4 linked regions of the Homo sapiens genome follow. The protein of the gene in region 1 interacts with the protein of each later gene in a pairwise test. Each region holds a gene or a part of one and is shown on either strand. Other genes may lie near its edges.

Region 1 (3,500 bases):
CACCACTGACTGGCCTGTGTCCATGGCTTGCCTTCTCTTGCCTCAATTTCCTTTTCTGTAGAAGAGAGAGAGTAGTAACTGTTTGTAGAATTGTTGGGAGGATGACATCAGATGGTGCACATAAAGCGCTGAGACAGTACCTGATACAGCAGGGCCCAGTGAGTCATAGCTGCCCTGTTTTCTTAGGTAATTCAGGCTTTCTCTGCCTTGGCACTGTGGACATTTTGCACGGGAACATTCTGTTTTGGGGGCTGTCCTGTGCATTGTTGGATGTTTAGCAGCCTCCCTGGCTTCCCACCCACTAGATGCCATTAGCAACTCCTTCTCCCCATCCCCAGTTGTAGCAAGCAAAACTGTCTTGGTGGATGTTTTTTGGGGGATACAGTTGCCCTGGTTAAAATCTACTGGGAGCTGCTCTCTCTCCTCTGTGCTGCTGTTGCAGCAAAACTCCCAAGAGAAGCGGTATCTGTTTATGTCTAAGAGTCCAACTCGGGAATCAGACTTCCCCTGCCTCACTTTCCTACCTCCAGGCCGTTGGCTTGGATGAGGGGCTGCACCTCTGTGAGCTCCTCACTTTGGTGAGCAGGCCTCATGGGGCAGCACAAAGCAGATGCTCTGAGTGCTCCATTTCGTGTGCTGTGATTCACATTCCTTCCTCCGCCACTCCAAGTAGCCCTCAGCTACTGGGCATGTTTACTTTAAAGTAAAACCAGGCTTCACCTCTTCTCTGTGAAGGAATAAAACTAGTCTGCCCTTTTCTGAGGTGTCTTAGAACTTCTTAGAATGTTCCTTCATCCCCCTCCCTCCTACTGCACTTGGCGAATCAAGCAGCTTAGAGACCAAGAAACCTTGTACAGGTGGAGCCTCGGCAGCGCTGCCCCGCGCTCCGACCCTGCTTCTGTTTCTTGTCTCTTGGTTGCCTTCTGAGAATCTGCCCTTCCTCTGGGCAGAACTGACTTGACTTTAGTGATGGGCCTTTGGATAGAGGTAATGGCAGGAAGTTAACTAATTTTTTGAATTTCTTGTTTTCTAGTGTGTTCTTATTATTTTAGTACTTTAATGGTATTATGTACTGAATTTTAGCCAATAAAGGGGGAGGGAGGTTGCATCAGTACACTTAAAAGTGTGTGTGTGTGTGTGTGTGTGTGTGTGTGTGTGTGTGTGTGTGTGTATTTTGGAGACAGGGTCCTGCTGTTACCCAAGCTAGAGTTCAGGGGCATGATTATAGCTCACTGTAGCCTCAAATTCCTGGGCTTAAGCAATCCTCCTGCCTCAGCCTCCTGAATAGCTGGGACTACAGGCATGCACCACTACACCTGGTGATTGATTGATTGGTTGGTTGTAGACACAGGGTCTCTTTGTGTTGCTCAGGCTAGTCTTGAACTTCTGGGCTCAAGTGATCTTCCTGCTTTGGCCTCCCAAAGTGCTAGGATTACAGGTATGAGCCACTGTGCCCAGCCAAAAATATTTTTATAAAGTCGGAGCTTTTGTGTTGTTTGGGAGGATTTCTTTACAAATCGATTATTTTTATGTCAGTGGGTGTCTTAGCTCCATATGTAGAGTATACAGTATGGTTTTATAACTTTTGATTTACACAGACATACCTTTGGAGCCATGGCCACAGTTAAGATAGTGGGCATATCAATAGCTCTGGGTCCTTTTTTGTTGGAGACAGGGTCTCACTCCATTGCCCAGGCTGGAGTGCATGATGTGATCATGGCTCACTGCAGCCTCGACTTCCCAGGCTCAGGTGATTCTCCCACCTCAACCTCCCAAGTAGCTAGGACTACAGGCATGTGCCACCACGCCCAGCTAATTTTTAAATTTTTAGTAGACATGAAATATTGCTGTGTTGCCCAGGCTGGTCTTGAACTCATGGGCTCAAGCAATCCACACGCATCAGCCTCCCAAAGTGCTAGGATTATAGGCATGAGCCACTAGTGCCCAACCTAACCCTGGGTACTTAAAAGAGAAAAATCTAGATATGGTTTGTAGTAGCCAGTTGGAGGCTACCGTGTTTTGTGTGAAACTGTCATACTTAGAATGGTTTAGAAAGTCTTAGGAGAATGCCTGCCTGTTAGGTTGGTTTAACTTGTAATGGGCTGTGAGGGGTTGTTGCCGTGTGGTGGGGGTCCTTCCCTCAGAGAGGCCTCACCCGCCTTGCTGTGCTTCTGGTGCTAGAGTTTCAGTCCTAGTTGCCCCTGAGGCGCTTGCGACTGTAGCCGCTCAGTATCTGTCTTCTAGTCTGTGACTTGAATGGGAGTTGGGGGAGCAGAGGAACTGGGAGTGAAGGGCTCTGGGTTGGGCTTGATTGTTGTGATTTTCTCTCTTTTTTTGTTTTTTGAGATGGAGTTTCGCTCTTGTTGCCCAGGATGGAGTGCAGTGGCGCGATCTCAGCTCACTGCAGCCTCCACCTCCCTGGCTCAAGTGATTCTCCTGCCTCAGCCTCCCGAGTAGCTGGGATTACAGGCACGCGCCACCACGCCTGGCTAATTTTTTTTGGTATTTTTAGTAGGGACGGGGTTTCTCCATGTTGGTCAGGCTGGTCTCGAACTCCCGACCTCTGGTGATCCCCCTGCCTCAGCCTCCCACAGTGCTGGGATTACAAGCATGAGCCACAGTGCCCCGCCGATTCTCTCTTTTGAGGCTTTTCCTGCTCGGGGACTTCTGGTTTCCCAGTTCTCTGTTGTTTTCTGAAAGGAAAGACTGTGAAATGACCCAGAACAGTTCCTACTCAGAGTTTAGAAGACACTGTCTTGGCATGATGCCTGAGTTGGGAATAGATGCCGCTGGCCCCCCAGGCTTCCTGCACACTCCCTGACCAACAGACTGAGTGTGTTTGCTGTGATCCCACTGACAGAAATTACCAAGGCCATCTGGGCATGCCTGTACCTGTGCTGCCGGATGCAGTTTGGTCAGCAACAGACCACAATATGATAGTGGTCCCATAAGACTATGATGGTGCTGAAAAATTCCTGGCACCTGGTGACGTTGGAGCTACCATGTTGAGGGCAGTGTATTACTCGTGTCTGTGGTGCTGCAGTAGGTGTGACCAAACCTACTGCCCCAGTCATACCAGAGTATACACCTACAGTTACGTACAGTACCATACAGTACGTAATAATTGATGATAAACGACTGTTACTACTTTGTGTATTTGCTATACTTTTAAGAGCATATTCTGCCTACTTACTAGAAACAAAGTCAACTGTAAAGCAGCCTCAGGCAGGTTCTTCAGGAGGAATCCAGAAGAAGGCAATTGGTGTGACAGGAGATGACAGCTCCATGTGTGTTGTTGCCCCTGAATACCTTCCAGTGGGGCAAGATGTGGAGGTGGAAGATCCAGACCCTGTGTAGGCCTAGGCTAATATGTGTTTTTTGTGTCTTTTTGGGTTTTTGGTTTTTTTGTTTTGTTTTGTTTTGAGGCAGGGTCTCTCCCTCACCTGGGCGGAAGTGCAGTCATGACTCATTGCAGCCTTGACCTCCTGGGCCCAAGTGAT
Region 2 (3,500 bases), on another chromosome or scaffold:
CGAGGAGCACACAGACTGAACATATACATTCCAGCGTGGTGCTTGGAGGGCAGCTCATCGGCCACAGAGGGGCTCAGTGCCACAGAGGGACACTGAGCCCAGTCTGGGGGCAGAGGAGGTGTCCATGAAGGCCTTCCCAGGAGGCAGCATAAGAACTGAGTCCTGAGGATGAGTGGGCATTACCTGGGCACAAGAGGGAGCGCGAAGTGTAAGCAGATGTGAGAGGTACGCAAGAACATGTGCAGGGAGGGGCAGAGGGGGGCGGCCCACTTGACAACTCTAGCCAGGTCAGCTCAGTTGACCTCACCTCTCAGAGCCTCGCTTTCCTCCTCTATAAAATTGGAGGAAAGCGAGACTTACCTCGTAGGGTTGCTGTGAGGTTTACATGAGATTTTGACACGGCAGAGAACCACTTAGCACAGTGCTTGGCACATAGGAGACCTCAGTAAGGGTGAGCCATGATTAGTATCACATACAGTTTCATTGTGCTAGAGTGAAATGCACAAGGAAGGGAGTGGCAGGAGGAGCAGAGGTGGGCAGGGACCAGATCATGGACAGTTTTGCACAACAGGCCAAGCCTGGACTTGACTCTGCATGTCTGCAGTCGTTTTCCCCGCTCTACTGATACCCAGGAGCCTGAGGACATTCCCACGTGCCACATACTTCAGGGACATATTCAAGATCTAGATGACTGACACCCTCCCTTAAAAGCAAATCTTTGTTTATGAGGACTATGGTAATTCCTATTTAACTCTTCAGGCTAAATCATCATGGTCACTCACTAGGGTATGTGATAAGATCATTTATGGTTATGAGTATTTTTCAGGTGCCTGCTGCCTGTAACTCTGCCCCTCTCCTTCACCCCAAGCAAATGAGACTGGTACAATTTGGAAAACATTGAATTGGCTATGATTTGTTTTAAAAAGGTAATAAATCATTCAAAAGCATAATAGAAAATGCTCAGTAAATGTTAGCTACTATTGTTAGTATTTATATTAGTAGAAATAGTAGTACTAATAGTAGCAGTAGTAGTAGGAGTAGTAACAACTTACTTTCAGCCCACGTCAGAGGCTACACTGTGGTTACAGAACCACTGCGGTTGGTGGGTTTTAAGCAGGGGAGTGGCAAGATCATATTTGCATTTCAGATCACTCTGGCATCAGGATTGGAGGATGGATTTGCTGGAGGCAAGACTGTAGGCAGGGAGACCAGTTAGAAGAAGGCCCTTGCAATTGTCCAGTTAAAAGATAACAAAGGCCTGAGCAAGGCAGTGGGTAGAGATACAGAAGAAGAGCGGCAAGATTCGCTAATACTTAGAATGTAAAATTAGCAGAAATTTGGTGACTGACAGAAGGGGGAATGAAGGCTGGGAAGAGGGATGAGTCTAGGATCCCCAAATCAATGGCCTGGCTTCTAGGACTATCTCTGAGATAGGATGTAAGACAAGAGGAGGAGGGGTTGGAGGGACTGACCATGACATTTGGATTTGGATATGATGCGTTTGAGATTCCTGTGGTCCAGAGGCAACCAGCTCCACGAGTCAGAAGCTGAGAACTCAGGCCAAAGTCAAGGTTACAGCCTAGTATTAGGGAGTCCCCAGGTAGTGGTTATAATCAAGGAAGTGTAGGAATCTCCCCAGGGAGTGTGAGTAGTTGAGAGCAGCTACTAGCACAACCCGGGGAGGAAGGGAAAACAAGAAACCCTCAAGAGAGAAAGGAGAATCAGCAAAGTCTCAAAATCAGGTATCAGGATCAAAAGCTGCTGAGGGGTCCAGTAATACAGGGACTGAAATCAGGAGATCATCAGTAACTTTCACAAGGGCTTCTTAGAGTCCATCAAAGTCCCATGGATCGAGGCACAAGCTAATGCCTACAGCAGCTATGCTTCACAGGTATCTTGATCCTTGCAGCCCTTTCAGACACCTGTTCAGTCCATTTTTGAGAGTCACTAGTGTAAGAATACTGCATGCATATCCCTCACAACGCTAAGAAAACAAAGTGCAACCTCCAAGAAAAGTGGCTCCAGGCTCCCAGATCAATGCTGGGCAGAAAGAGGGCTTTGTGGGGACTGAACAAACTGGGAAGTGCATGCCCTGTCTGAAGCAGGTAACTGCTTATCTTCGAACGGGGCCAGTAGGGAATGCAGGCCCCGGATGGCCAGATCTGACTTTCAAGAAAAGACAAAATCAAAATTTTAACATGAAACCTCCTATTTTTGAAAACCTGCATGGCACAAGGGCAGACAGAACTCATCTCTGTAAAATTTCCAAATTCTACTGCAGATGCTATCCCTAAATATTTCTCAAATTATTCTCTATGTCTCTCATCACTACCCAAATTCACCTAACATTGGTCTAGGTAACAGTCATACAAAAATTATTTTTAAAAAATCACAAACTTATTATATTCTTGTCGGAAAAAAGCCCCAATCCTTGTATTATACATGTAATCCTCTATATTTATTTTATTTTATATTTTATTTTATTTTATTTTATTTTATTTTATTGAGACGGAATCTTGCTCTATCACCAGGCTGGAGGGCAGTGGCACGATCTTGGCTCACTGCAACCTCTGCCTCCCGGGTTCAAGTGAGTCTCCTGCCTCAGCCTCCTAAGTAGCTGGGACTACAGGTGCACGCCACCACACCCAGCTAATTTTTCTATTTTTAGTAGAGACAGAATTTCACCATGTTAGCCAGGATGGTCTCAATCTCTTGACCTCCTGATCTGCCCGCCTCGGCCTCCCAAAGTGCTGGGATTACAGGTGTGAGCCACCGTGCCCGGCCGTAATCCCCTATATTTCTAAGAAAAACTTTCTAACCAAGACTGGAAACCAGCAGCTATAAAATAAAACTAGGTCAAGTGTGGTGGCTCATGCCTGTAATCCCAACACTTTGGGAAGCTGAGGTGGTAGGACTGCTTGAGCCCAGGAGTTTGAGACCAGCCTGGGCAATAGTGAAAAAAAAAAAAAAAAAAAGCCAGGCATGGTGGTGCACACCTGTAGTCCCAGCTACTCAGGAGGCTGAGGCAGAAGGATCACTTGAGCCCAGGAGGTCAAGGCTGCAGTGAGCTGTGATTACGCCACTGCACTCCAGCTTGGTTAACAGAGCTTGGGTAACCCTGTCTCTAAAAAAGAAAACAAACATTTCTGACTACTAAAAAATATTTTCTCTAGCAAAAGGTAATATAAACACATTCAACAGATAAATACCAGATAAATACTCATAATGCAGATGACAGGCAAAGGGCTAATTTTTATAATATATAAATTTTCTTACAAATTGACAAGATGAACAATTCAACAGAAAAATCGAATATTCAATTAAAAGAACAGATCCAGATGGCCAAAAGAGTATGAAAAACTGCTCCAAATGTAGAGAAATGCAAATTAAAGTATAAATGAGATATTATTTTATTCCCATTAGACTGACAAAAATGAACATAGTTCTAGCATATATTACTATAATGGGTATGTGGAAAAGTGAACTCATAAATTGCTGGT
Region 3 (3,500 bases), on another chromosome or scaffold:
AACAAAACAAAAAACACAACAACAAAATAAACAACCTTGTCACTAAGTCTTTTCCAAAAGCAAAAAACCCTTCCGTTGAAGTTAATTATCCACCACAAAGCCTCTAAACCTGTTAAAGATAATTTTTCAGATCAGCTTTCTCCTCTCTGACTAAAGCATATTAATTTTCAAAATCTTTTAAATAAACCGTTTTTTTTTTTTTAAAGAGATGGGGTCTCGGCCAGGCATGGTGGCTCACGCCTGTAATCCTAGCACTTTGGGAGGCCAAGGTGGGCTGATCACGAAGTCAGGAGTTCAAGGCCAACCTGGCCAGTATGGTAAAGCCCCGCCTCTACTAAAAACAGAAAAATTAGCGGGCGTGGTGACGCGCGCCTGTAGCCCCAGCTGCTGGGGAGGCTGAGGCAGAATAGCTTGAACCCGGGAAGTGGGGGTTGCAGTGAGCTGAGATCATGCCACTATACTCCAGCGTGGGCGGCAAAGTGAGGCTCTGTCTCAAAAAAAAAAAGATAGGGTTTCACTATGTTGCTCAGGCTGGTCTCAAACTCCTGCTTAAGTGATCCTCTAGCCTCTGCCTCCCAAATTACTGAAGTGATGGGATTACAGGCATGAGGCACCCACCCGCCCCTCCTCCCTACCTTTTTTCAGACAAGGTCTCACTGTCGCTCAGGCCAGAGTGCAGTGGTGCAATCACAGATCACTGCAGCCTCGACCTCCTAGGCTCAAGCAACCCTCCCACCTCCACCTCCTAAGTAGCTGGGACCACCACACTTGGCTAATTTTTGTATTTTTTGTAGAGACAGGGTCTCCCTATGTTGCCCAGGCTGGTCTCGAACTCCTGGCTCAAACAATCCTCCCATCTTGGCCTCCCAAAGTGCTGGGATCATAGGTGTGAGCCATCATGCCAAGCCTAATTCTTAAAATCATTAATGTTGCAGCTTGAAAACTAAGTGGCAATGGCTTTACTATTCTTAGTCAATTTTCCTAATTTAAATTGAAAGTTCATAATGATAATAACAATGGCTATTAATTATTGAGAACTTACTATGTGACAGGTACCATGAGTGCTAAATGGTCTACATGGACTCTCTCACTAAAACTTAGCAAGTCACTGGGACAGTTGCTTTTATTATCTTCATTTACAAATGAAACTGTGGAACAGAAAGTAATATGGCCAATTATTAGTGGAGAAACTGGGATTCAAATTGGTACCTGAATGCAGACACCATACTCTCACTCAGATACCAGGTTAAGGCAGTCAAGAAACAAGCAGAAACAGCTGAATCTCAGGGTAAGACTCCCCATAAATGTGCAGAAAATCTGCCCTGAAATTCCAGTTATGTAAATCAGAAGTTCCCCCTACCCTTGCTGCATTTACTTTTGCTTTAAAGAGAGAGAATTCTTCACTATAAATCTTTTTTTAATAAAAAATCCCCCAGCAGCCAGGAACGGGGCTTCTCCCCACCTTTCTCAGTGGTGCCGGTCCCGTTCTCTATCCCGGTGTCTCTCATGCTCCCGGTTCCTTTCTTGGAAATAATCATCATGCCGATCTTCATTATGAAGCAGATCCCGGTGCCTCCTGCTGCTCTCCCGGGACCGGCTAGGTGACCTTTCCCGGGAGCGATGTCTTTTCCTATTAGAAAGATCCTTCAGCCTCACTCAGAAGGCCTACCACTTTCTTTCCAAGAATGTGGTGTTTTGGTGTCTTCTGATATTTGCCTAAACTATTCCTCTATTACTCTATCATGGGCCTGCTGTCTGAGGATTTTAGCTCTTTGAGGACTACTCTTTTTTGGGAAGATGATTAACAGGTAAATTTATCTGTTGAGAACTAATTTATCAGGTGTAGTGCTAATAATTTTGTATGGATTATCTGACCTAATCTTTACAACAGGTCTGTAAGATAAATACTATCAGTGTCCCTTTTTTAGAAAATGAGAAAAATAAGGCTTGGAAAGTTGACTAACTTCCATACACAAGAAGGTCATACAGATAGTTAGCAGCAGAACTGGGATTCCAATCCAAGCTTGTAGGGCTCCAAAACCCATGTTCTTAAAAATATCTGTCTGTATTTTTTCCTACATGAGCCCACTGCCTCACCCACCAGATTCCAGATGTTACAACACTTATTAATGAAAGCATCTGATTAGTTTCTTCCCCAAAAAGACATGAAGGCTAACGTCCAGACTTTCGGCCAGGTCTTTCCCAGATTCCCTGGGCTCCATTTGTCCCCACTCCCTATCCCTGGAAGAGTGCTGCTTGGGGCTGGTAGGTGAGGACACAATCACCAACTCACCTGGAAGAGCTCCCACTGGCACCCACACTGTAGGACTTGGCTTCGATGCCATGAAGACAGTCCTTAAGAGAGGAGATGAGGACACGGCAACGCTCATCATTGGCAACCCGGGACTGTTTGATAACCGCAATGGCTGTGAGCAGCGTCTCAATTGCGTCACTGTAATCCCCTGATAAAGGATGAAGGAGAAAGGCCAAGGGTGAGGAGAGATGGTAAACTAACTGGACCAAAAGGAGAACTCAGGCAGACACAAACCAAGAGTAGCTAGCCGTCCCAAACAACCGCGGTAAAAGAGACAAGGCAGATGTTGCAAGTGTAAAACTGGATGACACCTATATTCCAGCAGTTCGGAATTTAACAGATGTTGTCAGATGAACAAACTGACACACTGTTGTCCAGGGGCTATTTGACATCTATTAAAATAAACAATGTGCATATTTTTTGAGCCAGCAATTCTATTAAAAATTTTCTACTTCTGTTCACAAGTGTGTATGTTTAACAGTGTTTTAGTGTTTATTTTTTTTCATTTTTTTTTTTTTTGAGACAGTCTCACTCTGTTGCCCAGGCTGGAGTGCAGTGGCCGTGATCTCGGCTCACTGCAAGCTCCGCCTCCCAGGTTCACGCCATCCTCCTGCCTCAGCCTCCTGAGTAGCTGGGACTACAGGCGCCTGCCACCACACCCAGCTAATGTTTTGTATTATTAATAGAGACGGAGTTTCACCGTGTTAGCCAGGATGGTCTTGATCTCCTGACCCTGTGATCCGCCCGCCTTGGCCTCCCAAAGTGCTGGGATTACAGGCATGAGCCACTGCGCCCGGCCAGTGTTGTTTGTTATATTATCTTCAATAGGGTCTGGCTATATAAAGGAACATTGGTTCTACAGAATATTACATTATTAATGTACTATTAACAATTAAAAAAGCAGGAGGTAAACCTGTATGTAAACAAAGTAATCCATGTAAAGCCCTTAGCACAGTGCCAGGCACACAGTAAGGATCAATAAATGTTATGTTATATGTTGATATAATAGGTGTCCAGAATATACTAATTGAAACAAGCAAGTTTCAAAACCATATCCTGTTTTTGTAAAAACAATAAAAATTATATAAATTGTCATATGCATAGAAAAAATTCTGGAGGAATATAAACTATAAAAGGTGGTCTTATTGGTTGATGGTCCTTGTATAGAGGACTATTTTGTTTTTGA
Region 4 (3,500 bases), on another chromosome or scaffold:
AGATTTCAATTGTTATGTTCAAGAATGCTAACAGTATTTTCTCACCAAAATTTGTATTTTTTATTTATCTTTTTTTTTTTGGAGAGAGACCTACAAAAGCTACTAGTCTGGTATTATTTGGTGGGCCTAAAAGTGCACCTATTTGACTAAACGCATATATATGAGGGACTTCTGTTTCCAGGCAAGATATAGTAACAGGAACCAGATTCACCTTCCTGCTGAAACAACCAAAAAACTGGCAAAACGTATCAACAAGTTTCAAGCCACTGGACATCAGACAACTAAGGACAAATGACACAGAGTTGGGAACAACTGAGGTGAGCCTATAACTGCCCCCACTCACTGGCTTGAGAGTCTCCAGACAACTCCATGAGGAGACTAAGCAAGAGTCCAGGGAAACCGAGGCAGCCAAAGCTCAGAGAGTCCTGGGAGAGCTGCCACTCAAATATTCAGCTGAACCCTGATCGTTGCATACTTGAGAGAAAATTCCAGAGGCCAGGGAAGGAACCACCCAAAAGGATTCCAGGTCAAAGTGCCTGGCTCTAGAAAAGAACAAGACTGAAAGACTTGAAGGATTCCCCACGGGTAAGGGACACAGAAAGGTCTTGCCTCAGTGGTAGGAAAAAACTAAACCTAATCTAAGCATTGTTCCAGTACAACTAAATACATTTTAAAAGTAAGACCAAATGCCTTAAATTATTTCCAACTAACTTAACTGTGTCCCAGGACAAAGCTCAAAGATATTTATAGGAATATAAAAATATCCACCCAACAAGGTAAAAGTCTGGCATACAATTAGAAATTAACGGGCATGCAAAGCAGCAAGAAAAATGCAATACATGAGACCACCTCCCCCCCAATCAATTCACTCAAACCAATCTAGAAGTGATACAGATGTTATTATAAATAGACAAAGACATTAAAAGCTCTATGTGTGTGTGTCAAACACTAATGCATATAGATACTAATACAATGAAAACTGAGGAACATTTATAATCAAATATTTTTGAGAAAAGCTTAAGAATAAAAACTAAAATTTGACTTGCCGCAGAAACCTCTATACATGGAGAAAAGCCAGAGAATTTAAAAGGAATAATTATTTTCATGATAGAAACAAAGTTGCAGTATTATTTGCCATTTTGCTTTATTGCAAGAATACATTTTTAAGGTGTAAAACACTTGGCCAATGCGTACTCTTACTAATTCAACAACTTAAATGATAGTTAAAAATATAAAAATAGGAGAAAGCTACATCTACCCTGTTTGCTTCAAAATCAACATTTTTGCTTACACTTTTAAAAACAATTGAAGGAGCAAAAATTTTCAAAGATGGAGAAATTAATGGAATGGTGTACTTACACTCCCACCAAAAATTCTTCTACAACACTGCAGAGTTTAAAATGTACAAACTCAGCCGGGCACAGTGGCTCATGCCTGTAATCCCAGCACTTTGGGGGGGCCGAGGCAGGAAGACTGCTTGAGCCCAGGAGTTCAAGGCCAGCCTGGGGAACAGTCAGACCCTGTGTCTATTATAAATAAATAAATAAAATGTCCAAACTCGTAAGAAGTAAGAAAATGGGAAAGGAAACCATTTAAAAATTAAGAATCTAGAAAGCAGATGGTTAACTTAAAATTTACCTGACTCTAGTTAAGAAAGAAACTTATTTCCTTGCAATCCACCCCAAAAATACTGAGGAAATGGGCAGCAGTGAAAACAGGGGTGAGGGTGGGGCTGAGATTGCAGGACTAGATGAACTCTCATTAAAAAGCAGTTCAATTCCCATATCCCCTGTCCACAAATGGCTAGCTATCAAGCACTCCCTAATTCCCAGCAGTAGACCAGAAACTGATTCTGAAAGGAAGTAAAACACTTGCTCAAACTGCATTAGGAGAACAGTTGACAGGGTAACTTCCACTCTGACAGCTGGGCTGGCCGGCCATCTCCCCTGCTCCAAATGCAGAGCAAGGGAACCCAGGCCCACATCTTGGGGACAGGAGACTTGAACAACTGACCCTTCAGAGAGTTAATAAAAGACGCTACAATGCTGAAACAAGAATGCTCTATTTAAAAATTTTGAATACAAATAGAAACTCCTGCAACTAAAAACATGAGAGCAAAGATGAAAAATTTGATAGAAGGTTGGAAGACAAACTGAGGAACTCTCCAAGTAGCAAAAGACAGAGATAAAAAAAAATGGTGCAGAACTGTATAATATTAGAGGACTAGTCCAAGAGGTTCAGAAACTGAAATGACGATGTCCAACTACCAATATAAAGAAAAAGAAAGCAGAGGGAGAAAAATCATCAATGTTATATATTTTTCGCAAAACTGAGGGATCTGAGGTTCCAGATGAAAAGGACCCACTGAGTTTTCACCACAAGGAATAAATGAAGCGGACACTTCAAAATCAAACAATGTAGCAATTGAAAGTAAACACTAAAAGCACCTCTTTTAGTGTTTTGGAGGGGGTGCAGTGTGAAGAGAGAGACCGACCAACCCGTTTTCCACATCAGGCCTCAGAAAATCTTTCATCCATGTGCATATCAAATGTCACACAAAAAAAGGCTTTGAGGTCATGCTACGCAGAAGCCATGAAGCCATATTCATTCTACTGTAGTCCATTCCAGCTCAAGAAGAGTTAAATTCCTTCAGTGAGTTTGCAGCTTAGTAATTATTTAATACAAATACTATTTCTCCCTGTGATCTCATTCTGTTTCTTAAGCAGATTATAAAGGCAATCTGGGATTGGCAAATTTTATAGAGAAATCAATAAAACACACCCCAAAAGGTCCTCTTTTAGTCATTAAGGATAGATGCAATTATAGGATGGTTACTTCTGAACTTAAAATATCCATAGTAAGAATCCACTCACAAAACCCATTTTCTCACTTAAATACATCAGGACAAAGAAAAGGTTGAAATAAGCAGACAGGAGGGATGATGATATGGACGCACACCAAAAATGCTGTATTTATTAGAAACTGTGTTCTACGAGGCATTCGTTTCTTTTTACAATTATGTTTCAAACAATCTTTCAGGGGTTAATAGCTGAGATACTGATGTGGAAAAAAATAGCTCATGACTACTATAATGTCTGTTTTACAGTTACCATTTGCAATATCATTTCATAATATATGTGCTACTAAATCTTCAGCAACATAGAAGAACACAGTTTTGCATCAATATAATCCCAAATTTACATTTTCCAGCACAGTACTGCCCCCTGATTTCTAGACCTCCAAATTCAACTGCCAACTAGAAATGTATACTTCAATCTCTAAAGCAGTCTGAACTCCACATGTCCAAACTGGGGTTCATACCTCCCTGCTGCAAATCTGTCCACAATTAATGTCTCAGCTATTACTCATCCTGAATGAATTTTCTGAATCAGCGTGGATTTTTAGAATTTGAGGCTTTGTAGGAAATCTCTGAAACACAGTCATGGCTTACTTGTGCTTTGACAGAGACTGGCTGCTGCACATGCACCCATTCACATCTA

The links. Proteins that work in one complex are often made in the same cells at the same time.
Region 2: the proteins of YTHDF1 (region 1) and MOV10 interact in a two-hybrid assay, tested with the Homo sapiens proteins (one large-scale study listed by BioGRID).
Region 3: the proteins of YTHDF1 (region 1) and CPSF7 interact in a two-hybrid assay, tested with the Homo sapiens proteins (one large-scale study listed by BioGRID).
Region 4: the proteins of YTHDF1 (region 1) and QKI interact in a two-hybrid assay, tested with the Homo sapiens proteins (one large-scale study listed by BioGRID).

Annotation. Positions count from the first base shown.
Region 1 is NC_000020.11:63,209,632-63,213,131, reverse strand, and holds part of YTHDF1 (YTH domain-containing family protein 1), read left to right. Parts: intron 1-3,500.
Region 2 is NC_000001.11:112,684,659-112,688,158, reverse strand, and holds part of MOV10 (helicase MOV-10), read right to left. Parts: intron 1,194-3,500; exon of another isoform or gene 1,053-1,193; intron 1-1,052.
Region 3 is NC_000011.10:61,409,476-61,412,975, forward strand, and holds part of CPSF7 (cleavage and polyadenylation specificity factor subunit 7), read right to left. Parts: intron 2,463-3,500; coding exon 2,294-2,462; intron 1,631-2,293; coding exon 1,468-1,630; 3' UTR 1,463-1,467; exon of another isoform or gene 1,106-1,462; intron 1-1,105.
Region 4 is NC_000006.12:163,529,718-163,533,217, reverse strand, and holds part of QKI (KH domain-containing RNA-binding protein QKI), read right to left. Parts: intron 1-3,500. UniProt on the Homo sapiens protein: RNA reader protein, which recognizes and binds specific RNAs, thereby regulating RNA metabolic processes, such as pre-mRNA splicing, circular RNA (circRNA) formation, mRNA export, mRNA stability and/or translation.